Linked DNA regions of Homo sapiens: all the other regions are reported to be linked to region 1. Evidence: microRNA targets listed by miRTarBase, many of them from high-throughput screens and not tested one by one. Region 1 holds a microRNA gene; each other region holds the end of a gene's coding sequence.

The links. Region 1 holds the annotated microRNA hsa-miR-124-3p (UAAGGCACGCGGUGAAUGCCAA, at 3,193-3,214, opposite strand). A microRNA usually pairs through its seed, bases 2 to 8, with sites in the 3' UTR of a target mRNA and lowers its output. Matches are read on the target gene's strand: a 7mer-m8 pairs with bases 2 to 8, a 7mer-A1 pairs with bases 2 to 7 and ends in A, and an 8mer does both.
Region 2: the mRNA of DIPK2A is a reported target of hsa-miR-124-3p. Seed matches in the 3' UTR shown: 7mer-m8 at 3,389-3,395.
Region 3: the mRNA of TMED1 is a reported target of hsa-miR-124-3p. Seed matches in the 3' UTR shown: 8mer at 4,014-4,021.
Region 4: miRTarBase lists RIPOR2 as a target of hsa-miR-124-3p. The part of its 3' UTR that is shown has no 7-base or 8-base seed match.
Region 5: the mRNA of KCNK2 is a reported target of hsa-miR-124-3p. Seed matches in the 3' UTR shown: 8mer at 879-886.

The regions. Positions count from the first base shown.
Region 1 is chr8:9,900,207-9,905,206 of GRCh38, forward strand. MIR124-1 (microRNA 124-1) reads right to left here and starts at 3,266; the gene lies at 3,182-3,266. MIR124-1HG (MIR124-1 host gene) reads right to left here and starts at 3,123. Exons shown (of 3, transcript NR_024281.1): 1 at 483-3,123; 2 at 349-406; 3 at 1-80. It overlaps LOC124902057 (a long non-coding RNA gene), which reads right to left. Exons shown (of 4, transcript XR_007061170.1): 2 at 4,953-5,000; 3 at 4,326-4,422; 4 at 3,864-3,981.
Region 2 is chr3:143,988,911-143,994,082 of GRCh38, forward strand. It overlaps DIPK2A (divergent protein kinase domain 2A), which reads left to right. Exons shown (of 3, transcript NM_173552.5): 3 at 600-3,458. The coding sequence ends at 931. Among named protein-coding and RNA genes, the nearest start is that of DIPK2A, 20 kb to the left of the region's middle.
Region 3 is chr19:10,828,687-10,833,686 of GRCh38, forward strand. TMED1 (transmembrane p24 trafficking protein 1) reads right to left here. Exons shown (of 4, transcript NM_006858.4): 4 at 3,381-4,527. The coding sequence ends at 4,309. It overlaps DNM2 (dynamin 2), which reads left to right. Exons shown (of 21, transcript NM_001005361.3): 19 at 350-582; 20 at 1,441-1,692; 21 at 2,292-3,217. The coding sequence ends at 2,361. It overlaps MIR6793 (microRNA 6793), which reads left to right and starts at 287; the gene lies at 287-349.
Region 4 is chr6:24,802,139-24,807,310 of GRCh38, forward strand. It overlaps RIPOR2 (RHO family interacting cell polarization regulator 2), which reads right to left. Exons shown (of 22, transcript NM_001286445.3): 22 at 2,146-4,335. The coding sequence ends at 4,235. Among named protein-coding and RNA genes, the nearest start is that of ARMH2, 5.8 kb to the left of the region's middle.
Region 5 is chr1:215,234,740-215,239,911 of GRCh38, forward strand. KCNK2 (potassium two pore domain channel subfamily K member 2) reads left to right here. Exons shown (of 7, transcript NM_001017425.3): 7 at 89-2,351. The coding sequence ends at 406. Among named protein-coding and RNA genes, the nearest start is that of KCNK2, 150 kb to the left of the region's middle.

The sequences.
Region 1 (5,000 bases):
ACCCACAGAGTAGATGAGGAAAGGGAGGCTCCATCTGTCCTAGGGAGAACGCTTTGCAGCTGCCCCCAGAAGACTCCATTCTAAGGTTGGAATGGGAGGAGGATATTATGTAAGTTCAAGAGGAGGAAAGAGAAAATGTTTTCTCTGTGGAAGCAGCATAGATGGATGGACTTTTGGTGGCTAAATGCCTTCCTCTAAATGCTAGCATTGGATACGGTTATGCGGGAAAATATATGTGTGCATATGGGCACACCCCTCCTCCGAATATCTCTCTGGCAAAAGCTCCTCATACATTCACAAAAGCCGCCCCCCTCCCTTTGGTAACAGAAGTAACTTACAGGAGTTTACCTTTGCCTCTGCTAGAAGGTCAATCTCTTTTCCGCTTAAGAGGAGATCTGGGCTGTTTCTGGCAGGGGAAAGAAGAGTATCACCAATTTTTCCTTTGACACATTTCTAAATCTGGAAGTATCTGGTAGAGTTACCTCAAGAATCATATAAGCTTGCATCACGATGGGGACTGTGATGGCAGTGGTGCATATGAGCCCATCAGGTCCTTCTTCGCGTATTCAGTCAGCAAACTGCCTCAACCGTGTCCTACTTTTTCTTAAGCATATAATTCCCCTTTCATTTAAGCCAGACTGTAGCTAGAGGGGCTCAAATAGGTAAGAGAGAAGATACTAAAGAGTTAAATGCACTCAAAGGGGAGAACTATTCAGATTTCTTATAAAATTACTGGTGGCATAAATAGGCCCCAAATACAGAAGGGAAGGGCTGACCTTCACTCGGACACCTCATTTGAGCACAGAAGGGGCCTGGCAATTACACATGGGGCCAAGTGGTCTATTCATCTCTTTGCCATTTTCAGCCATTAAAGCCCTACATAAACATACATTTCATAATGAGACCCACCCGGTGGACACAGGCAAATGCCCACACCCATGCGCACAGACCTAATAGACCCAGAACACTCCCACACACATTAAAGCTTTCTGGAACAAGAGTTTACATAAGTAATGAAGTAAAAAATATGCCCCTCCCATCATAGATTATCTGCAGCAGAAACCTGGCAGGCGTCAGCCATGGTACCTGTGGTTTAAGCTCTCAGCTTAAAGCATCTGAAAGGGGCATTACGTGGGAAGGCATCTGGAGGTTTTACAGGAGGGCAGCACATCAGCGAAGGGTACAGCAACCTCTGAAGGAATTACGGGGAAGCAGTTACTAAAAAGAGGCTCGTCAATGTGGACGTTTGTGGGGCAAGGGGTTTAGTAATCGGAGGCTTAAACCATGCCTAAGAGAAGCATCCAGCGGCCTTCACAGTGAGCAGAAGGGGCAGAGCAAGGCGCTTCACACCCCAATAAGGCCCAGCACTGACTGCTTTCTTCTTCCCAAACCTGTCCAGAAAGGGCGGAGGGGACACCAGGACTCAGAAAGCTACTGGTTTCGGGGGAGGTATATTTTGAAGGCAACGGCAAATAGACAAGGGCTTGTGAAGGCTCAGGGGTGAGAGAAGCTGTTCTCCCTTTCTGTCCTGCAGCCAAGCTTGCCTTCTGGGACTCCAGAGGCAGCCCAGCACCTGCAGTCTGCAGGATGTGCACTGCAGCTTTCTCTCTGCGGGGGCAAGCAGGTTGTGCCACATTCTGCAGACCCAGAGAAGGTTCTGGAAGTATCTAGGTGAGGTGCAACACACTTAACCTCTGCCTGACTCTAAACACTGCTTTAGGAGGGCAAATGAAGAGCCTAAGAGTTAATAATTACACAAGGATTGCACACAGTAGGTACTTAATAAATATTTGGGGAAACTGAGGCCGGGGAGGGGCCCTGATCCAAGGCATCACTGAATACTAATTTATTTAGCAGGCTAGACTGAGGCTTTGGAGAGGAAAGAAGTCCTCAGTAAGCTTCAGTGGAGACTCTTAGGGCTTGATTATTGTGTCAGGAATCAAATTAATCTCCTAAGCATCCCTTATGGCCTTGGCCTTGCAAAGCCAGGCCTCTGCCATGCTCGGGGGAAGGGATGCAGCAGGCTTCCTGGGCAGAAGGATCCAGCTCTTGGCCTCCTTTCTCTGCTCCTCCCTCTACTGCAGGGACCTGCCCCTCCTCCATTTCCTCCACCTGGAAATTAATGAGCTTAGGTCTTGCCCCATCCGCTGCAGCTTGGTGGTTAATACAGAGCTGGAAATGGGATGAGACTGTGGCAGCGCAGTACGAGGGGGGTCTCTAGGACCAGCTGCTGCTCAGGGTCTAGTGATGGGAGGAAGGCCTGATTTGGGAAGCAGGTTCTTCAGGATGAAAAGCTTAACCCTTTCCATTCCCTGACAGCCTCTTTCAAAACAGTCTTTCCTCAGACCCCCAGTTGCACACATTCTGTTTTTCCTTCTGTTCACATTTTTAAAGGAACACATGTCTCCCTTGGGTCCATGTAGGTTATTGTGCCTCTCCCTTCCTCTGCAGCTCCTGGATCTCTGCCTGAAACTGCAATAACAGCTACAGGGAGGGCGTGAGGTGCTCCTTAGAGCCATGACCACGCTTTCAACTCCGATAGAGCTTGTGAACCCGCTGGGAGCTGGCTCCTTCTTGTCCACATAGCCCAACGACTTCCTTAAGCTTGTCAGGTGCTCTCAGCTCTACAGCAAAGTGTGACAAACAGCTCCCCCTCTCCCTTCCTACCGCCTGCCCTCCTCCCCAAACCTCAAGCAGAACACAATATATCCGCAGTCCAGGCCCTGAGGCAGTCTGCCAGTCTCTGGATGCCAAATTATTATTTTTTTAAGGGCAAACCAAAAAACTCAGCTCAGAACAAAAACACAGTCACGGAGGAAGGTGTTGACCCACATACAATGAGTCCTGAGCCCAGAGAAAAATCTGCACACACAAGCACTCCGCAATGCGCTCCCAGGCGACCCCCTCCCCACGCACACCGCATCTGTGCTGCACAGATCTGCTTCTGTCACAGAATCAGCTTCTGTTTCTCTCCCTGAGTCTGTTTGCATCTCTAAGCCCCTGTCTGTCACAGGCTGCACACCTCCCCACCCCACGGGCTCCGGTGCGGGACAGGCAGCCGGAGGGAGCTCCAGACCCCTCCCCTCGCGCCCGCGGCCGCTGCGCGGAGGTCTGCGGAGGGCGCCTGGCTCGGTCGGTCGCTCCTTCCTTGGCGGGCCCTCGCCGACCCACGGTGCTCAGCCAGCCCCATTCTTGGCATTCACCGCGTGCCTTAATTGTATGGACATTTAAATCAAGGTCCGCTGTGAACACGGAGAGAGAGGCCTTTCTCCTGAGGAAGGAAAGGAGGAAGGAAGGAAGGAAAGGTGAAAGAAAGGAAGAGGGGTGGGTAGAAGATGGAATAAGAAAACCAGGAAAAAGAAATAAAAAGCGGCGCGTGTGCGTGCGCACTGACAGCGGGGAGAGGGATGGGGGTGGGGAACGCCGGAGGAAGGGACCACAGCATCCTCCCCGCCGCAGCTCCCCCAATCACACAGACAATGAGATAACAGCGACGTCTTCCAAAGGCTCTTTGTTCTCCCCCATCCTTTCGCATCCAGGCTTTTTCCTGCAAAGCGGAGGGGGTGGAGGGATGGGGGTGTGGGTGGAAGTGGGAGACGGAGGGGTGCCTCCCCCGTGTTAATTACCCCGGCTCCCCTCGCCCCTTTCCCCGCGCCTCGCCTCCCCTGCAGCTCCAGACAATGAAAAAACAACATCGACCCCACCTCGCCCCAGCGCAGCAACCCACCCACCCATGTCGCCCTCTGCTTCGCCCAGGAAACTGAAGGGGACTAGGAGGAGGAAGAAGAGAGCGAAGGACAAGGAGAGCAGCGGGGACTCGGCAGCGGCAGCCGGGGCAGGGCGCGCGGCCGCCGCCTCTTTACCTCCATCGCTGAGTGGGGGCGCAGCCGGGCCGGGCGTGCCGCAGGGGCGAGTTGCCGCGGTCCGGGGCTGGGACCTGGGGATTCAGCCTTCCGGAACTCGCCTGCTGCAGTCCTCTCGCTCAGGTCCCAAGTGGTGGAGGGGGGAAAGGAAGAGAGACGAGAGAGAGAGAGACAGAGAGAGAGAGAGAGAGAGGAAGAAGAAGAAGAAGAAGAAAAAAAAACCATAAGAGCGAGGCCCATCTGGCCCCTCATCAGCTTTGTCAAGTCTTGCATACGCTAAAATGCTAATGACCTAGATAGCTCATGCAAAATGCAGCAGGGAGGGCGGGAGCGAGGGAGGTGGGAGGGAGGAAGAGAGAGGAGTGCAGGGGGGAGGGAGGGAGGAGAGGCGGAGGGAGGGAGAGAGGGAGAGAGCACCCCTACACTCTCCCCACCCCACCCCCAACTGTCAGCGGGCTTTACCAGGTAAAGGGTGGACGTAGATTTAAAAGGTCACTCGTGTATAATGCGGCTGGATCCCCGGGTCAAAAAAAGGGGGCGAGACAGAGGATGAGAGTCCCTAAAGCCAAAAGGACAATAAGACATCATTTTAAGCCCCCACCCCCATGCCCTCCTCCACCTCTCCACACTGTTTACACACAAATCCTGTCGCCGCCTCATGCATGTGCACGGACATGTCAATTTCTCATCAATTTCTCAGCGCTCCTATCGACAGACACCCGAATTCTCATTCCCAGCAAAACTCATCCACTGGACCCGAGGGAGGAGAAGACCCCTTCTCCTCCTCAGTGCTCTTCGGGCTGGCCCATCCCTACTCACCTCCATCTCCACTCTCTACTCCCTTAGCCCTCCAGGCAGCAGAGGGCTCCTTCTCTTTTCTAAGCCTTGAGTCCCCTGTCCCCTTTCCAACCCCCGCATCTTGAGAAGGAGACGCAGAGTAGCAGGAAAGCCAAGTCAAGTCCACCTAGGTCTCCCACAATTCAGCTACCCCTCCCAGAAAAAAAAAGAGACCCCAACAACCCCGACCCCTCTCCTACGTAGACACTGTGAAAGCAAGCCACAGGGACAAATAAAAGACAATCCGAATACCCTCAGCGTTCCGCACGCCGGGCGGACGCCCTTCCGCAGCGGCCACGC
Region 2 (5,172 bases), not on the chromosome of region 1:
CAGAGTTATCTTTCTATAAAATAAATTATGGTCGTGATTACACAAGTTACGACCTATTTTTCTAGCGTCACCTGTATCTCCTTGCCAACTACGTTTCTCACACTCTAGCCACAGTGAACTTATTGCTTCGTGAACCAAATGGAGCAATCCCTTATGTCCATGTCTTTGCATATACTGTGTCCTGAACCTAGAATGCTATTTTTTCCTAGTTTCTTTTCAGATTTGTTTTCTTTTAAGACCTAAATCAGATGTTCTCCTTTTTGCAGCCTTCTACAGCCCCAGGGACAAGTGCTAATTTAATTCCCCACTATTCCTGTAGCATTGTGTCATATTTCTTTATGGCACTTTCTGTGTATGATGGAAAGTCGCTAGACTAAACCTGTAAGTGGTAGAGACCTTTCTGAATCTTTCTGCCTAGCGTTAGTGGGCTCCCAGTGAATGTTTGTATGAATTTATATATTTAAATGTTTATGGTTATAATATACTTTTACCTAAAAGTGTAGAACAAATACTATTAATTAGTGAAATATTCTATTTTTGGAAGCAATGAAAACTATTTAAAAAATTTTTTTCTACTTCTGCTTTTCCTCCTTTCACAGATAAACCTGAAAATTGGGATGTATGGTATGAAAGCAAGTTTGATGACTGTGATAAGGAGGCTTGCTTATCATTTTCAAAAGAAATTCTTTGTGCTCGTGCCACTGTGGACCACAATTACTATGCTGTTTGTCAGAACCTCTTATCCAGACATGCCACCTGGCGTGGCACTTCTGGAGGACTCCTTCATGATCCACCAAGTGAAATTGCCAAAGATGGCCGGCTCGAGGCCTTGCTGGATGAGTGTGCCAACCCAAAGAAGCGCTATGGCAGATTCCAGGCTGCAAAAGAACTGCGTGAATACCTAGCACAATTAAGTAACAACGTGAGGTAGTCTATGGTGAACTTTTCTTTTTTTCTCCATTTAAACAGCACTGGCTAAAACTAAACCACCAAAAAACGATCTGAAAAAATGAAATTTGGAAGTGTTACATTCAGAGGATGATAAACTTGCACTGATAGATCTTAATGTTAACATCCATCAAAATAAGACATTACTTCAAAAATCACATGATGCTTCTGCAAATAAGTATGTTCTTATACTTTGGAGGCTTGAGCTGTCATCAGCTGCTCCCCACTACCCCGGAATGCTTGAGTGGATTAATGAATATTGTTAAGCTATTGGAAATGAGTCTGATAGTACATTGGCTTGTGTATCAAAGGGTACTTGGTACTTAGTTTGCATTTACTATCATGATTTTGTGAATCTCTTGCATTTACTTTGAATGTCAAGTCAGATTGGTCTGTTTTATAGGCCGCTTTTTCCTTCTGATGTGTAGGGTTTTTTCCCCCTTTTTTTTTTTAATTAAATTTTGAAAATTCAGGTTACTGTAGGTGTTCATTTAAATTTTTAATAGTTGTCATTCAGTGCTATTTGGTACATATTTACTGTTAGGGCAGGATTCCCAGGTTTACTGTGTTTTTTTTTTTTTTTTTTAAAGAAAGCTAAATATTACATTATGTAAATACTTCTTTTCACCAACTTCTGTAGTTTCACCATTGCATGGTGTCATTTCAGGTTATTTAACAGTTATATCCCTCTATGCCAATAATTAGAAGTGTACACTAAACATGAAGTTTGGCATATGTTGCAAAATGTCATTTTATCTTTTCTAAAGGCTTTAAGAAGAATATACTAGAATCTATATATTGATGTTAATTTTGATTCAGAAAAAAAATACAACCCAGTATCTAAAAAGTGTTAACTAGTCCAAGATAGTAATGCATATGCCAAAGAAATATTACACCTAATCTCATGTTTAGAATTTAAAATAGAATTGGTCAGCTACTTATTCTTACCACCCTACTTCCAGTATTTTAGCTCTGTCATTATTAAATTCAGATCTTCCTGATTATTTTTTCTGTTGAAAGTTAAACTACTGCTTTCAAGTAATTTAAAGTTATCCTACCTTTTATTCATGGGTAGTTTTGCAAAATTAACATGGTAGCCATTGTTTGAATTTAATCGGGCATCATAACTTTTCATTTATTGAGGAACTAATCATTATTACTATAAAGCATACAAATTAGCCAGTCAGCACACTTTGGTCTTCTTTACCTAAGGGTTAAACATCAGAACATCAAATTTAATTATTTGCATAGAAATGTGTGGGCTCTTTATATAAGTTGACTATCACTAACAGGTAATATTTTTCTGTTTGAAGTTGTTACTTTTGTTTACAGCAAAGTTTGATGTAGTGTGCAGTAGTGAGCTCTAGACTGATCTTTTTCTAAATCAGAAAGTGATTAAAGTATGCACAACCAAAGGCAGGTTTTTCTTTTTCATTTATTCAGCAACTATTTATTAAGCATCAACTCTGTGCCAGGCACGTTACTAGCTGCTACATACTGTCTGAACATGACATACGGTTAAGTAACTTTACAATTATTATCAAATACTTCAATGTAGATATTTCTTAAGTTGAAATAGCATTAACTAGGATAATGCTTTCATGTTATTTTATTGTCTTGTGATAGAAATTCAACTTGTACCATCTAAAACTAGGTTGCTATAAAAATAGGAGGATGAAGTCAATAAAGTTTATGCCAGTTTAAAAACTGGAAGGAAAAGGTAAGAGCTCTCCATTATAAAATAGTTGCATTCGGTTAATTTTTACACATTAGTGCATTGCGTATATCAACTGGCCCTCAATGAAGCATTTAAGTGCTTGGAATTTTACTAAACTGACTTTTTTGCAACTTTGGGAGATTTTTGAGGGGAGTGTTGAAAATTGCCAAACACTCACCTCTTACTCAAAACTTCAAATAAAATACACATTTTCAAGAGGGAGCACCTTTTATATTTGATAAGTTTTCATTATAAACCTTATAATACCAGTCACAAAGAGGTTGTCTGTCTATGGTTTAGCAAACATTTGCTTTTCTTTTTGGAAGTGTGATTGCAATTGCAGAACAGAAAGTGAGAAAACACTGCCAGCGGTGATTGCTACTTGAGGTAGTTTTTTACAACTACCATTTCCCCTCCATGAAATTATGTGAAATTTATTTTATCTTTGGGAAAAGTTGAGAAGATAGTAAAAGAATTAGGAATTTAAAATTACAGGGAAAAATATGTAAGTGAAAAGCAATAAATATTTTGTTCACTTTGCTATCAAGATGTTCACTATCAGATATTTATTATATGGCAGCAATTTATATTTTTAATCATTGCCCATTAATAGACGCAGTAAAATATTTTTGAATCAGACATTTGGGGTTTGTATGTGCATTAAAATTGTCTTTTGTACTGTAAGTTACTGTTAATTTGAATATTTTATTGAACTGTCTCCCTGTGCCTTTATAATATAAAGTTGTTTCTACAACTTTTAATGATCTTAATAAAGAATACTTTAAGAATCACACTTTTCAGACTATTTCTTAACTTCAGATATCCACATTTTTCTTGAGTGGAAAGTGAGTTTGAGTAGATAAGTTACTAGTTTCCTCTTGCATGCACTTTAATTAGAATTTTGAGGGAACTATCTGATTGGGTGTGCACCAGGCTTTAAGGTTATGTGTGTTTTCTTTTTCTGTAGTAGTGAGTTTTTAAAAAACTTTTACCACTAAAATGGAATTAAAAGAAAAACTTCATTATGGAAATTTTCAAATGTATGCAAGAGAATAACATAATGAACAGTAGTATATCATTACACTAACTTCAAAAGTTAACAACATGTGGCAAAACTAGTTTCATCTCTAAACTACTTGCTTCCAGCTTATTTTGAAGCAAATCTGAGATGTATCATTACATCTCAGATTTATATTACGCATTTTCTCCTAGTAAAACACAATACTTTTTTTTTTTTTTTTTTTGAAACTGATTCTCGCTCTGTCACCCAGGCAGGAGTACAGTGGCACGATCTCGGCTCAGTGCAACCTCTGCCTCCCGGGGTCAAGCGATTCTTGTGCCTCAGCCTCCCGAGTAGCTGGGATTGCAGGTGTGCCCACCACCACGCTCGGCTAATTTTTATATTTTTTGTAGACACGGGGTTTCTCCATGTTGGCCAGGCTGGTCTCAAACTCCGTACCTCAAGTGATCCGCCTGCCTAGGCCTCTCAAAGTGCTGGGATTATAGGCATGAGCCACCGCGCCTGGCCTCACAATACTATTTTTACATCTAAAAAATTACAATAAAAACTCAGTATCACCAAAGCAGGAAAACTTAAACACCATTGTTTTTCTCAGAAACTCTGGATCCAACTGCAGGGATTCTGAACCACTGGCTGTATACATGGAGCAATTTCATGATCAGTAAGACTAATAACTGAAATTGATTCTAACATGTTGTTATAAATATGTAAACCTATGCATTCAAAATGCTACTAAAACCAGCAACCAAAAACAACAAACTACCTTGGTAACCTTCGAAAGGATATTGAAAAAATCATTCTGAAAACTGCTAAATCGGAGAAAAAGAAACATTTATCTTGCCTTACCTCAGGATGATCAAATTATGAAGGGAAAATTTTGTTGACTACGTAGAATTATTTCAATTAACAAATGCAGAAGAAGTGTTAGAATATCGCTGTTTTTCAATTCCCATTAATTTGACAAATCTAAGCAATGATCATCAATGGCTTCAGAGGCTATTAGTTGAAAAACTGATAAAAAACCTTGTAAGGATAGATGAGAATGGCAACACCGGAACCCACTGGTCAATCTTACAGTAGTGTGCCTTCTGATAAGACTCAGCAGGTACCCAGCACTACCTATGAAGTGTTCGGCCAAAAGACAAAAACCCTGAATCGAATCAAGCTCCTACACCTATCTGTAAATGGAGAGTGAACAGCACAAAGGAACACATTAAAGAACACCATGGGGGCGCAGCCAACAAAATTCTGAACAGGCGATTCTACAGGATAAATAACTTAGTTTTCTTTAACAAGTTGTAGGGAAAAGGAGGAGGGACCATTAAAAGATTTAAGAAACACAAAAATGCAAGTGTTACCTTTGTATACTGATTTGAATAAATCAACTTTTTGAAAAAGTTGAAATTTGAACAACTGAACAATAAGGTGAATGTCTTGGGTAAGCTCATCCATTTTAATTTTGCATCTCGTCATGTAAAAAAAACCA
Region 3 (5,000 bases), not on the chromosome of region 1:
GGCAAGATACTAGAAATAAGTTGAATAAGAATCTCATAACCAGCCTGGGCCACATGGTGGAACCCTATCTCTAAAAAAATTACAAAACTTAGCCAAGCATGGTGTCAACGTGCCTGTCGTCCTAGCTACTTGGGAGGCTGAGGCAGGATAATTACTTGAACCCGGGAGGCGGAGGTTGCAGTGAGCTGAAATTGAGCCACTGTACTCCAGCCTGGGTGACAGAGCAAGACTCTTTTTCAAAAAAGTCTGGGGGTGGCCCCGCCCTGTGAGAGATGTTTTTCCAGCAGTCACTGTGGGTTCTGGGTTGGGGTGATACACAAGCCTGACCCTCCCCAACCCCTGCCCGCAGACGAAGGCCTTCATCCACCACGAGCTGCTGGCCTACCTATACTCCTCGGCAGACCAGAGCAGCCTCATGGAGGAGTCGGCTGACCAGGCACAGCGGCGGGACGACATGCTGCGCATGTACCATGCCCTCAAGGAGGCGCTCAACATCATCGGTGACATCAGCACCAGCACTGTGTCCACGCCTGTACCCCCGCCTGTCGATGACACCTGGCTCCAGAGCGCCAGCAGCCACAGGTCCGGAAGCCTGGTTCCCCTACCCTCAAGCATTCGGCCTGCAGGTTCCTGCCCTCCCTGTGTGTCCTGCAGGGTCCTGGCAGGAAACAGGACACAGCCCAAGGGTGGCACCCAGGGCTGGGCACTGTGGGAGCTGCTGCCCTGCTGAGGCCGGAGGAGGGAGAGAAGGGGTATGGGGGCGAGCCAGCCCTACAGCTCTAGGGCAGGACCCTGTGAATAAATACCCCGCCTGCCCTCTGCTGGTGCCTTCCATTGGCACAGCCCAAATGGAAGCTGGGGTAAGAGGCTGGAGGGGCAGCAGCCACAGGAGAGAGATGAGCCTCCTGGAGCACAGAGAAGGGCAGATGGGAGGCTCTGGAGGGGCAAACGCAAGGCGTGGCCAGAGCTGCTGCCGCCCCTGAGTTGTCCATTGAGGCCGTCGGGCAGGGAACCTCAGAGGGGGCTGCCTTGCAGAGCCCTGGGGGAGCCATGGAGTTCCTTAAGGGGAGGATATCGCACCCAGGCCTGCAGGTGGCAGGGACTGAGGCCCAGGAGGGAATCTGGATGTCTGGACAGGGCTTGCAGGTTCCACGGCCCCTAGAGATATTAGGGCTTGATCTGGAGGACTCTGGAAGTGTCTTTGGCTGTGAGGGTGGATCCCAGGCCCAAGGCCTGAGGGGGCCCTGTGAGTGGGAAGTGCCTGAGGGGGCCGAGGGCAAGGGAAGGTGGGACTGGCGCTCAGGTTGGGGTGGGAGGATCCCACTGCGCCTGCGCTGTCCCCATAGCCAGCCCCCACCTCAGGTTCTGGCAGCCACAGTGGCATGGCGGGGGCTCCTACTCCATCTGTATCTGTAGCTCACACCCTCTCCTTCCTCACAGCCCCACTCCACAGCGCCGACCGGTGTCCAGCATACACCCCCCTGGCCGGCCCCCAGCAGTGAGGGGCCCCACTCCAGGGCCCCCCCTGATTCCTGTTCCCGTGGGGGCAGCAGCCTCCTTCTCGGCGCCCCCAATCCCATCCCGGCCTGGACCCCAGAGCGTGTTTGCCAACAGTGACCTCTTCCCAGCCCCGCCTCAGATCCCATCTCGGCCAGTTCGGATCCCCCCAGGGATTCCCCCAGGAGTGCCCAGGTAAGGCCAACCCCCTGCCCTCCACCCCAACTGCCTGCACCCTGGGGTCTCTCCTCCTGTCTCACTTCCTCCCAGTGAGCTCTCACTACGTGCCCAGCTGCTGGAGTGGAGGAATCGTCCTCATCCCTATTTGGCTTGCGAGGAAACAGGCCCAGAGAGGCCAAGAGGCTTGTTCAGTGTCACAGAGTAGCGGAGCCCTGGTGACTCCGGGGCTCCCAGCTTGCCCTCTGCCTACTGGGGTGTGCCACCAGGCAGCTGGGGAACCCTCACACTGGGCACCTCCTCCCACTGTTTACCTTCTTCTCCTTCCTGCTCCTGCCTGCCTCAACCTACCGTGGGCCAGGCTTTATTCTCCCCACTTCTCCGGTGGGGAAGCTGAGGCCCAGGGAGGGCAGGGGGCTCACTGAGGGTCAAACAGCAGGCGAGTTGATGCCTAGGTTTGGCACTCCTGCCCGACACCCTGGTGGCTTGCGGAGGTCAGCCTGGGAACACCCTGGGGTGGTGTGTGGGTGGGGGCTGGGTCCTCAACCCAGGCCTGCCTCTTGCTCCCGGCCTCACTGCCGTCTCCCCCTCCCCACCTGTCTTTATTCTCTTTGCAGCAGAAGACCCCCTGCTGCGCCCAGCCGGCCCACCATTATCCGCCCAGCCGAGCCATCCCTGCTCGACTAGGCCTCGAGGGGGGCGTGCTCTCGGGGGGGCCTCACGCACCCGCGGCGCAGGAGCTTCAGTGGTCTGGGGCCCTCCGCCGCCCCTATGCTGGGACCAGGCTCCCAGTGGGCAGCCCTGGCCTCTTCCTTAACGCTGGCCCCGGTCCAGGGCCGGCCCCTGTGCCTGGCTGGACACCGCACTGCGCAAAGGGGCCCTGGAGCTCCAGGCAGGGGGCGCTGGGGTGTTGCACTTTGGGGGATGGAGTCTCAGGGTGGCAGAGGGGGGACCAGAACCCTTGACACCATCCTGAATGAGGGGTCCAGCCTGGGGGGGACTCTACCAAGGTCTTCTTGGGCTGGGAAAGCCCATGTAGGGCAGGCCTTCTATAAGTGCGGGCACCAAGGGCGCCTACATCCCCAGGCCTTGCTGGGGTGCAGGGGTATATCAACTTCCCATTAGCAGGAGCTCCCCAGCGGCAAGCCTGGCCCAGTGGGCTCGGTAGTGCCCAGCTGGCAGGCCTGAGGTGTACATAGTCCTTCCCGGCCATATTAACCACACAGCCTGAGCCTGGCCCAGCCTCGGCTGCCAGAGGTGCCTTTGCTAGGCCCGGAGCCGTTGGCCCGGGCCGGCCTTGCCCTATTCCTCTCCTCCTCCTCCTCCTGGGTCCCCCAGGGTGGCTGGGCTTGGGCTATGTGGGTGGTGGTGGCGGGGGGTCTTGGGGGCCTCTCAGCTCCCGCCCATGCCTCCCTGATGGGTGGGCCCAGGGCGGCCTCTCTCTGAGGAGACCTCACCCACTCCTCGCTCAGTTTGACCACTGTAAGTGCCTGCACTCTGTATTCTATTAATAAACTAAAATAAAGGGAAGACGCTGCTGGTGGCTGCTGTGTGGGCCTCTTGTGTTAGTGTTCAGGCTGGGGACATGGGTGCCACCTCCATCAGGCCTCCCATAAGGATGCCCAAGTCCCTGCACTCATAAGTGCCTCCCATCTCCCTGAGGGCTCTGCTTTCGGGGGTGTCACCTTTCAGAGGAAGCCACTCGATACAGGGGAGAGCTTTTACTTTCCTTAGCATGTGAGGAGTGGGAGCAGATATTCTCTGACCCCCTGCACACCCCCACGTGCACAGGCCTGGCTGCTGCCTGGTGAAGCGGGGACCCCAGCGCTCCACCCCCTTCCTACCCTCAGGCCCTGCTTCTCTCACCTCGTGGGGAAGCCCAAGCCTCGTGGCCCAACTGGGGCTCAGTTAAACTTTGCTTTCTGATTTTTCTCTTGTGCCAGGCGACCACCTCCATCGGCTCCCGCACGACCTTTCTTCTGAGCTTCGTGGGAGGCCCCTCCCACCTGTCTGGCTGCCCCCTCGGGGGCCGGTCTGTCCTGGCTGGTGTCCCTGAGCCCCAATCAGCAGGCTCTTGTGATTTTCTGACCATAATTTATTGACTCCAATGCCCAGGCCACACCACCCTTTGTTATAGGAGGCTTCTGCCTAGACTTTGGCCGGGCCATCCCTCATGCCTGTGTGGGGCCCCTGCAGGAGAGGGGCCGGGGCAGGTGGTCTTCCAGGCCCCCTTCCTGGCATTCTGTTACCAGACCTCAACCTGGCTTGGAGGGCCCAGGTTTCCTTGTTAGGCCCTGCCCCGCACCAGGCAACGCTAACACAGGATGGGAGGCTTAGGCTAAGGCACATTTACAGTAGAGGGGCCAGGAAATCCGAGGCTCACGTTCCAACGCTGCAGTGCCCACCATGTGAGATTTCCAGGACCGTCGGTGCAGCCACTGAGCCGTCCCTTCTACAAGCCAGAGGTGTTCCCTGCCCGCTGAGGACGGAAGGAGACTCATGGGGCCAGACCGCAGGCCCTGACTGCACACTCCCGTTTTGGCAGGAAACTAAAATTGGGGAGGGACCCCCAAGTCTCATATGCACACACCCTGCTGCCCCTCCTTTGTCCCGTTCTTCCTTCCATGGCAGGGGCTACGTGGGCACCGGGCGCTTGTCCTGGAAGAAGCGCTTGAGCGTGCAGACCTGCAGCACAGCCACCAGCAGCAGCACCGCCACGTTGACAGCTGACCAGAAGTTGACCCGCTCCAAGTTGCCCTCTTGCAGGTTGCGGTCACGTGCCTCGAAGGCCCGCAGTAGCGTGAGCATCTGGATGCTGCGCTCCAGCCGGGTCCGCATGGTCTCAATGGACTCCTACAGGGCAGCGGGAGGGGAAGGGTCAGGCCTCCCTCCACCCATCAGGGAGCAGAGACCAAAAAAACCGGGGGATACGGAGGGAGGCTGTATTAACCCTGGGAGGTACAGCTGCAAACACAGACTTGTTCAGGCTAAGTTCAAATCCTCACCCTGCCACTCACTGGCTGTGACCATGAGCAACTTAATTAACCTATCTGAGCCTGTTTCCTCTTCTATAAGCTTCCAAATTGCTGTGAACATTTAATGCCTAAATAAATGTACAAGGATGAGCATGGTGGCTCATGCCTATAATCCTAGCACTTTGGAAGGCTGAGGTGGGAGGATCGCTTGAGCCCAGGAGTTTGAGACCAGCCTGGGCTACATGGCAAAACCCCATCTCTACAAAAAATTAGCCAGGGGTGGTGATGTGCAACTGCAATCCCAGCTACTCAGGAGGCTGAAGCAAGATTACACCTGTAATCCAAACACAG
Region 4 (5,172 bases), not on the chromosome of region 1:
TCATTTCTTTTTTTCCCCTTTTTACATTTTTAGTTGAGACACTGTCCTGAAAATAAAAGTCAGATTAACAAAAGAAAAATAAACGGAAGTTTATTAATGTGTGTTGTACCCAATGTGCAGGAGAGACTTCAGTTCCAAAGTATTTCTCTCTCTAGGCAGTGGCTTAGGGGCTTTGCTTAAATAGCATTTTAACTAAGAGCCATGAATCCTATCTAGTGACAAGACAAAGAAAAGACCATCTTCAGGCTTCCGAAAGGTGAGAAAATGCCTGAAGGTAAGTTGATGGGAAGAGTAAAGTCTGTTCCTGGGTCCTCTGGCAGTGCTGTCTCTGAGCTCTGGTTATGAGCTGACCAAGGCAGAAAGGAGTGGCAGAATATGTCCCTGTTTTAACCTTTTCACTATAATCTCCAGCATTTTAGAGAGGAATATTTTAGTTGCCTCCAGTTGCCTCTGCCTGGAAGGTTCTTCCCAGAGATAATCCACGTGACTCATCCCAATAGCTCCTCGGGTCATTCCTCAAATGTAATTTTCTGTGAGGCCTTTGCACTCCTTTTTTTTTTTTTTTTTTTTTTTTTGACACAGGGTCTTGCTGTGTCACCCAGGCTAGAGTGCAGTGGCACGATCGTAGCTCACTGCAGCCTCAAACTCCTGGGCTCAAGCAATCCTCCTGCTTCAGCCTCCCAAGCAGTTGGGACCACTGGTGCACGCCACCACGTCCAGCTGGTTTTTAAAATTTTTGTAGAGATGGGAGTTTCAGTATGCCATGCAGACTGGTCTTGATTTCCTGGCTTCAAGGGATCCTCAGCCTTGGCCTCCCAAAGTGCTGGAATTACAGGTGTGAGCCACTGTGCCGGCCCCTGACTACTCTCTTTAAACTTGTGATCTTTGCTTTCTCCCTGTGTCTGTCTTCACCCCACCTTGTGCAATCATTTTTCCCCTTCTCTGCTTTGTTGTCTTCGCTTTGCCAGGATATAAGGCCTGGGAGGGCAGGGATTGTTGTGTCTTTTATTTTTCTCTACTACTCTATTTCCAGTGCCAAGAACAGTCCTTGGCATACACCTCGTTCATAGTAAGTAAGCAACAAATACTTGTTGAATGCATGAGAAGTTAGAGTTCTAATTTTTAGCAAACAATTATTATTCCTTGAACAAGGTGTACTTAGGACTGTCTCAAAATCAAAAGATAATATTTGTTTACTAAGAGGTACTGTCTCCAGGAAAAGTCAGGGATAAAAGTATTTTATTTGAGTTTTTCTGATACAGCGAGAAGTACTGGCATTTTTCAGTGAACTAAGGTTTACAATTTTACTTTACAATTTTGTAAAGTAACTAAGGCAATTTAGTTAAACAGTATAGTAGCAAACCTTATAGAGGAAAATGTTTGTACCACTGACTCAGTAAAAGCAATCACTGGTATTTAACGAGTCACTTGGTAAATACTGTCAGAGTTGAAAGTCAAGGGCTTCTTTGTGATGATGCTGGTGGGGTCTGAGTGGGAACAGAACATACACAAATCAGTGAAGGCACTTTTTATTTTTTTTTCCCCGAAACAGAATCTCACTCTGTTGCCCAGGCTGGAGTGCAGTGGCACGATCTTGGGGTAAGCCACCATGCCTATTTGCCCTCAAGGAGCTCACAGTCTCTGCTCATAGATACAACAGTGAAACTTAGCTGTTTTCTCTCCAATTAGCTTTACAACAAACTGAGATTTATTATCTCTATTTAGAGATAAAGGAATTTCAAATTGAAAATAAAAGCACGAGCTGTGGTGGCTCACACCTGTAATCCCAGCACTTTGGGAGCTCGAGGCGGGCAGATCACCTGAGGTTGGGAGTTCGAGACCAGCTGATCAACATGGAGAAACCCCATCTCTACTAAAAATACAAAATTAGCAGGGTGTGGTGGTGCATGCCTGCAATCCCAGCTACTCGAGAGGCTGAGGTGGGAGAATCGCTTGAACTCGGGAGGCGGAGGTTGCGGTGAGCCGAGATCGCACCGTTGCACTCCAGCCGGGGCAACAAGAGCAAAACTTCGTCTCAAAATAAATAAATAAAATAAAATAAAGGTGAAAATGAGGTGCAGTGTGTTCTGTAAATACCAACTCAGAAAGGGCATGTGAAAAAAAATAACATCAGACTGCACATGATGCTAGTAATTCAAAAATAATTTTTATTTTAACTTACATGACTGAAAGATCAATGAATACAAATGCCACACAACTAAAAGCACCCCTCAACCAAACATAAAATACAGAAGTGAATACAAAAGATCTGGAATTAATTACTCATGCAATAGTCAAAATAAAAAATAAAAAAATGACAAACCAAACACAAAATCCTGTAACATCTGTGTTTGACTTTCTATAAAAAGAACCATTTCAACCATTTAACATAAGCTATAGGCTATACCTCCTAACTACAGACTGTACAATGTACCTTTAAAGTGAAGGATGTATGAATATATATAATATTTATAAATATACAGATATGTACACGATAAGTTCACAGTTGAAAGAACCATTTGCCAGAAGCCTGGCAAACAATTTGCACTTTGAAATGAAATGAGTCCTTTTTAAAAGTCTTGCTAAAATGTAAATATTTAAAATGACATCTAAATGATACAAACACGTCCATAGTACAGTTGATATTCCACAGTTTAAATTACACTCACATATATTGTTTTGATACCTTGGCATACCCCACCTTGTACACTCTTTAGAGGAAGAAAAGATATTTTAATAAGAGCTACTGAATGGTCTTGTACTTTGCTTAATGAACTTGCATCTCTGATACTGAAGCAATAATGGGACCTGATGTTTGAACTATTTGGCCAGGGAATCCTACCAGTGAGTGATTTCCCTGGGGGCAGTAACCACCCCTCAGGATGTCCTTCTTTCTAATCCCACGGTCATTTTTACAGAAGGAGGGACCACTTTAAATGTTCCTCCACTCCTACTCCATTAGGATTTCTCTGACTTCTAGGTTCCTCCACCTCAAAGAGCATCACAGGTTTGTGAATCTACAGCTTTTGGTTTTGATTTGTCTTAGCAGCAAAACACCCCTATGGTAAGAATATCATAAAAAATAGCTCTCATTAATTAAAAAAAAAAAAGCATAAGCTTTGAGTTTTTTGTTTAAGTGTATAGGCATAATCTTAATGTAGTTCTTAGTCATTTACTTATCATTTTTCCATAATGGAAACATGATTTGGGAATTTTCAGGATGGGGAAAAGAAACAAAATAAATTATGGGAGTTTTTTGTTTTTTTTTTTGAGACTGGCTCTCATTCCTCTGTCACATGGGCTGGAGTGCAGTAGTGTAATCTCAGCTTACTGCAACCTCTGCCTCAAGTGATCCTCCCACCTCAGACTCCAGAGTAGCTGGGAGCACATAAAATTAAAACATCTAAACTCTCCTAATGGGTCATTTTGCCAGGTTCTGCAGGCAAACTTTTATTTGAAGATATTCTTTTTTGTGCTTTGTATTGAAAGTAAAGTTAGGTAGCTAAGGGGACTACTCAACCCTGAGAACACGACCGAGAAAAACTGCAAGGCATATGATGTTTGTCGAAGTATCACATGACTATTTCAAGCTTATAGAGAAACTTGCAAAAAAGTACAAAGATGGCTATTTTTAAATTTCATACATATTAAGATAAGATGGACTCTTTCACTGAGTATTATTAGACACAATCGACGATGTAATATATTTGAATTATACCATAGCCCTATTCTATATTGGCCAAAGGAAAAGTAGATAGGTACTGTGAAACGAGACTCTGAATTCTTTCTATAACATGTTTTTTTAGTTGTTGTTGTTGTTTTGTTTTTTGAGACAGGGTTTTGCTCTGTCACCCAGTCTGGAGTGCAGTGGGGCAATTATGGCTCACTGCAGCCTGAATCTTCTGGGCTCAAGCAATCCTCCCACCTTAGCCTCCCAAGTAGCTGGGACTACAGGTGCATGCCACCACGCCTGACTAATTAAACTATTTTTTTTGTAGAGACAGGGCCTTGCTATGTTGCCCAGGTTGGTCTTGAACCTCCTGGGCTTAAGCAATTCTCCTGCGTTGGCCTCCCAAAGTACTGGGATTACAGGCATGAGCCACTGCACCTGGCCTACATTTTTATTTCAGTTGTCGTGTCTCTCAGGCTCTAAACAATTTCCAGCCCAAACCACAGCACCATCCTGATGAAAAGGGCCAGATATTAAGACAGCTGTTAGGCAGTTAACCTGTAATTAAAAGGCTGTGGCAACTTCAGTTCCATGACGACCTCCGACTTTAACACAGTCTCGAGGAAATTTGTCCAATTGTTCATATGCCAGCCGCCCATCTTCTCCTAAATACAGAACATTAAACATGAATACCAATTCAAACAACGTTTTTATTAATTACTCAAAGTAACATAGTGCCATTTGTTTAGGGATGGGTTGCTATAATATGCTATGCTAACTTTTGGTAAGGAAAAGTTATCTTTTGTTATTCCTAATTATGTCATTGTTTTCCAGGTAATGCTTAGAACAACCAAGAACTTTTGAGCTAATTAATGCCAGAGACCAAAAGAATGCCAGGGTATGAAACAGAGTAGAAGTCTTATGGCCATTTGATGTTGATGATTTCATATAATCGATTTATTTTAGAGCAATTGTATGGATTATATTTTAAGTACATTAGGGATTTCAATATGGCTAATGCACTGAACTTTTACATAACTTTTACTTGTATACATTATATATCGATACATCTAAATGATATGTGGTAAAATCAATCTTAGGCTTTCAAACTTCAGCTAAAAATTACTTTTTACTATGTAAACATACAGAGATGCCTTCTACCAGCCACCAGCTAGTTCAGTTTTGTCCGTAACGCCACCTTGAACAGTTAGGATGCAATTGCAAATAATTTTAATGTTTTGTTCTATTTTTCTACTTTAAAAAATGATTTAGAAAATGAGAAAATAAAATGCAAAGACAAGTGATAAGAAGCAGGCTTTCATACATGTAATGCAAGTGAGACAAAGATGGAAATAGTTGTGCCTAATCAGAAGTTCAGCTGGGTGTGGTGGCTCACACCTGTAACCCCAGAACTTTGGGAAGCCAAGGTGAGTGGATCACTTGAGGTCACGAGTTTGAGACCAGCCTGATCAACACAGTGAAACCCCATCTCTACCAAAAAA
Region 5 (5,172 bases), not on the chromosome of region 1:
CCCAAAATAAAATGAACTGAAGATAAAGCATAGAAAATGTTGATCGGCATGTCAATATCTTTATCTTTTCTCTGCTTGTATGTTCCAGGTGGGAGAGTTCAGAGCACACGCTGCTGAGTGGACAGCCAACGTCACAGCCGAATTCAAAGAAACCAGGAGGCGACTGAGTGTGGAGATTTATGACAAGTTCCAGCGGGCCACCTCCATCAAGCGGAAGCTCTCGGCAGAACTGGCTGGAAACCACAATCAGGAGCTGACTCCTTGTAGGAGGACCCTGTCAGTGAACCACCTGACCAGCGAGAGGGATGTCTTGCCTCCCTTACTGAAGACTGAGAGTATCTATCTGAATGGTTTGACGCCACACTGTGCTGGTGAAGAGATTGCTGTGATTGAGAACATCAAATAGCCCTCTCTTTAAATAACCTTAGGCATAGCCATAGGTGAGGACTTCTCTATGCTCTTTATGACTGTTGCTGGTAGCATTTTTTAAATTGTGCATGAGCTCAAAGGGGGAACAAAATAGATACACCCATCATGGTCATCTATCATCAAGAGAATTTGGAATTCTGAGCCAGCACTTTCTTTCTGATGATGCTTGTTGAACGGTCCACTTTCTTTGATGAGTGGAATGACAAGCAATGTCTGATGCCTTTTTGTGCCCAGACTGTTTTCCTCTCTCTTTCCCTAATGTGCCATAAGGCCTCAGAATGAATGAGAATTGTTTCTGGTAACAATGTAGCTTTGAGGGATCAGTTCTTAACTTTTCAGGGTCTACCTAACTGAGCCTAGATATGGACCATTTATGGATGACAACAATTTTTTTTTTGTAAATGACAAGAAATTCTTATGCAGCCTTTTACCTAAGAAATTTTCTGTCAGTGCCTTATCTTATGAAGAAACAGAACCTCTCTAGCTAATGTGTGGTTTCTCCTTCCCTGCCCCCACCCCTAGGCTCACCTCTGCAGTCTTTTACCCCAGTTCTCCCATTTGAATACCATACCTTGCTGGAAACAGTGTGTAAAATGACTGAAGTGATGATGCCCGAAGATGAAATAGATGCCAAATTAGATGGACATTGAAGCAACACTCAGCGTTGCCTAGCGTTAAAGGCACTGCAGAGAAATGAGGTGCAGAGGTGGCCCCTCTGAGTATTTATTTGACTCAGGTACCAGTGGTACATATATACAGTGTAATTATGACCAGGCTGGTAAAATTGGCTGCTCGCAAACAATCCCCTTTTTTCCTGGCAGTATTTGGAATTTATCATTTATTAATAACTATACATTTTTAAAGGCAGAAGAAGAAAATCTATCTATCTATCTATCTATCTATCTATCTATCTATCTATCTATCTATCTAAATGACCTGACAGAAGAAAACTGTTAAAAATGGATATTATTGGAGGGGATTTAAAACAGTGGGTGTGAATTATCATTCTGATGGAAAGAAAATAGCAAAACAATGTGTTACAAGTATTTGCTAATAAACAGTATACTGCCAGCTTCTAATTGCTTTTTGATGTATGAAAGGCTTATATAATTTTCTTTTCGTTGGGTGACTTTTGCCAGATGAGAGGAGGTGGCACAGTGGTGAGTGCAGGGCACAGTCCTAGCCTTCTGTGGGTATACTTTTGGAGTTGTGACTTGGCTGTGAGGGCAGAAGTTGAAGTTGGGATCACTGTGACTTTGCACATGGAAAAATGCAGATTGCAGGCATAATTCATCTCTGACATTAGAGAAAAAGCTGTTATAGCACAATTTAAATTTTGAGAGTTTGCTGTGTTTTTTTTTCACATAAAAGAGGCTGATTATTCTTTTTAGTTTAATTTTATATCCTGTAATTCTTTGGATGGTTCCAAGATTCAGAAAAAATTCAGTAAATGCACCCCGTAAATTGCTACCCTTTCCTTTATTTTCATACTTAGATCTGCTGTACATTGTATATATATATAATTTTTAAAATGCAGAAAGAAAATAATTTCCCTAAATATAATTGCAAACTGATTTCTTTTACTTTTTTGTGTGTGGGGGTGGGAGCTGTATCTGAATAAGTGGCATTCAGATTAGGGTCTTGAAAAATAAACCCAGAATCTTTAAAAGAAGCAAATAAACTAATAGACGCTTATTTTCCAAAATTTAAATTTAAGCTAGAAATGTAAATATTCAATTAATTTGTTAAAAGTACTTTTATAAAGTTAAAAAAAATCCAACCAAAATTTTAGAAAGTCAGGCTCTTTTAGAAAGAAAGCTACACCCATTTCCTCAAATAACTGTTCCGAAAATTTATATGGTGGAATGCGCCATGTATAAACTGTGAATTGTATTGACAAATAAAGTTTGTAATTAAAGTCAGCATTTTCTGAGTCTCCTGCTTGCTGCTGAGAATTCAGATATGATCTAGGTAGGTAGAACTCCAGGATGTTACTTTTCATGCTGAGTTTGTGTCCCTCCTTTATTCAAAATATTTAAGAAATATTTTTGATGCATTGATACTACCCTTGCTAAATACATGCAGACTGTTTTCCTCAGTGGCTACTCACTAAAACCAAATATACTGAAATTCATTTTTGAAATAAGATATTTGAAATCGCATATAGTTTCAAGATTGTTTCTATTATATTACCATATATTTATGCCATATTTTATCATTGTTAGACCTTGTCTTGACACTGAAGTAGACTGAATGCTGAACACAGGTGCCTGAATGTGTTTTTTGTAAGAAAAAGACAAGTAAGCATCCTGGTGGTATTGAAGTCTAAAGAAGGTAGTTACCAACCGATCTTCTAGACCTTATACCACAAATGTTTGGACTACTTACCTTGTTCGTATCCTACATAGATTTATTGATTAATTCCTAAACAATTTGATGCTCAGTAAGTATTCTGAAACTAGCCCCCCACATTACCCTTAGGATTAGGGGAATTTTAAGAAAGTGTGTATTATGTGAACTGAAATCACTTTTATTTTCTCAAGCTTTATTTTGTTTATTTCTTGTAGGGAGAAACTTGATAAAGATTTTGACAAAACGTGGAATTTTCTAGTGAGTTTATTTTTCCATTAGGCCAATATAAGAGTGAGTAGTTTTTCCTGGAAAGATATTTGAAAAAAAACTACTAGAACAGAAAGTATCAGGGACTCCCTAATCTATATCCCTAGATGTAGATTTTAGAATATGCTCTCTATCCAACCTTACAGCCACTAAATGTGAAAGTGGTTCTTTTGGAGTTCTTTCAATTTCTTACATAGATCTATATACTGTGCTACATAGTCCATGTGACACACCTTGTTTTCCAATAGTATTTCACTCTTGTAATGCAGAAGAAAGTAAAACTTCTGAGGCCAAGAGGAAATTGAATAATGTGCATCTTGGCCTTCAAAAAAAGAAAGAACCGTGTGTAAGGCTTTGTTTATTTCTCAAATTTTAAGGAACACATGACATAAAAGACCAAATCCCATCTAATTCTGTGTCAAAAATCAGTAGAATTATTTGACTCTTAAAGCTTAAAGTTCAAAGAGACTTAAAGTTTTAAATGGAATACCAAAAAACAAATTTAGACATTCTGAAGATTTGAAATAGCTGTTTATTCCTAAGAATTAGAGGTCTAGATCAACTTGTCTTTCTTTTTTTGTTGTTTTTAATTCTTGCTGGTCTAGTAAAGCTGTAACTTATTTGGGATTTGCATTTCTTATTAAAATGTAAGTATGACTTTGTTTTTATATAAACTAAAGGGTTTTTTTATTTGAACGTTCATAACTCCATTACAATTAATGTGTGATATTTGCTTTAGCATGATTTTACTTAAATTTCCTCCCATAGTGAAACTGGCCAGGTGCGGTGGCTCACACCTGTAATCCCAGCACTTTGGGAGGCCAAGGCGGGTGGATTACTTGAGGTCAGGAGTTCGAGATGCAGCTGGCCAACATGGTGAAACTCCATTTCTACTAAAAACACAAAAAAATTAGCCAGGCGTGGTGGCGCATGCTTGTAGTCCCAGCTACTTAGGAGGCTGAGGCAGGAGAATTGCTTGAACCCTGGAGGTGGAGGTTGCACCACTGCACTCCAGCCTGGGCGACAGAGCAAGACTCTGTCTCAAAAAAATAAAACTAAATAAATAAAATAAAATAAAATAAAATAAAATTTCCTCTCATAGTGAAACTGGCCTTGCATATGCTCATGTGTCAGTTCCAAGATAGAACAGGATAACCTGGTTATTTCTGACAGAAACATTTGAGGGTAACGTATTGTAGTTATCTTAATATAGGGGGAGCTTCATAAGCTACACTTGCTTTCTTCCTCCCCCAACCACCTCAACGACCCTCTCAAAGATTTTCCCCTCTTGTTTCATACATGATACTTCCCCAGCCATAACTCAACTACCACTTCCTGAAAGACAGGGATTGGTTTCATGGAACAGGAGTTTTGGTCTTGCTCTTTTGTTTTGATTTGATTCTGTTCACTAAACCCCGGCTTTTACAATTTCTAATATTTATAAAGCCGTTTATTGTTTTCCTAGTATTAGCTTTACAAAATGTTTTCATTGTGTTAGGCTTGTCTCAATTTACAACTATTTTTTCTTTTTATCTGGCATTCCTTGTTAAAGTATTTTTGTATAGTCACCAAAAACTCACTGCCTAGTCTTTATTCTGTTTATTTTGAACCTTTAGACTTGGACTTCTTGCTCTGGATTCATCAAGCTAACTCACATGGGTATCTTCAATTCTAAAACGGACCTCAACAGAACCAAGACTCTTTTATAATCTTTCCCCAGACCTGGCCTTCTTCTGGTATCATCTATTTGAGCGGATGGCATGACCATCCCTCTGGCTGGGCAAGTCATCCTTGATATCTTCTTCTCTTCCTCAACTCTATCTCCACTTATCACCAAGCTGTTGACTTGTAAACTAAATATGTTTTGAATTTGTACACAGCCATTGCCTTAATCCAAGTCAACACCATCTTTTCCCTTCACTCAACTGCTTTTATATCATTCTTTTCTTGTCATTGATGGTGAAGAGTTGTTTTTAAATTTGCAAATTGTCTACAAGGCCTTCTTCTAATTAGTCTACTTTATGCCACCCTCTCCAGACTCATCTTGTATCCCTCTCTACCTCTGTGAACCCCAGCTCCACTAGATTTCTCACTTCTGTCACAAGGTTGTGTTGATGTTGTACC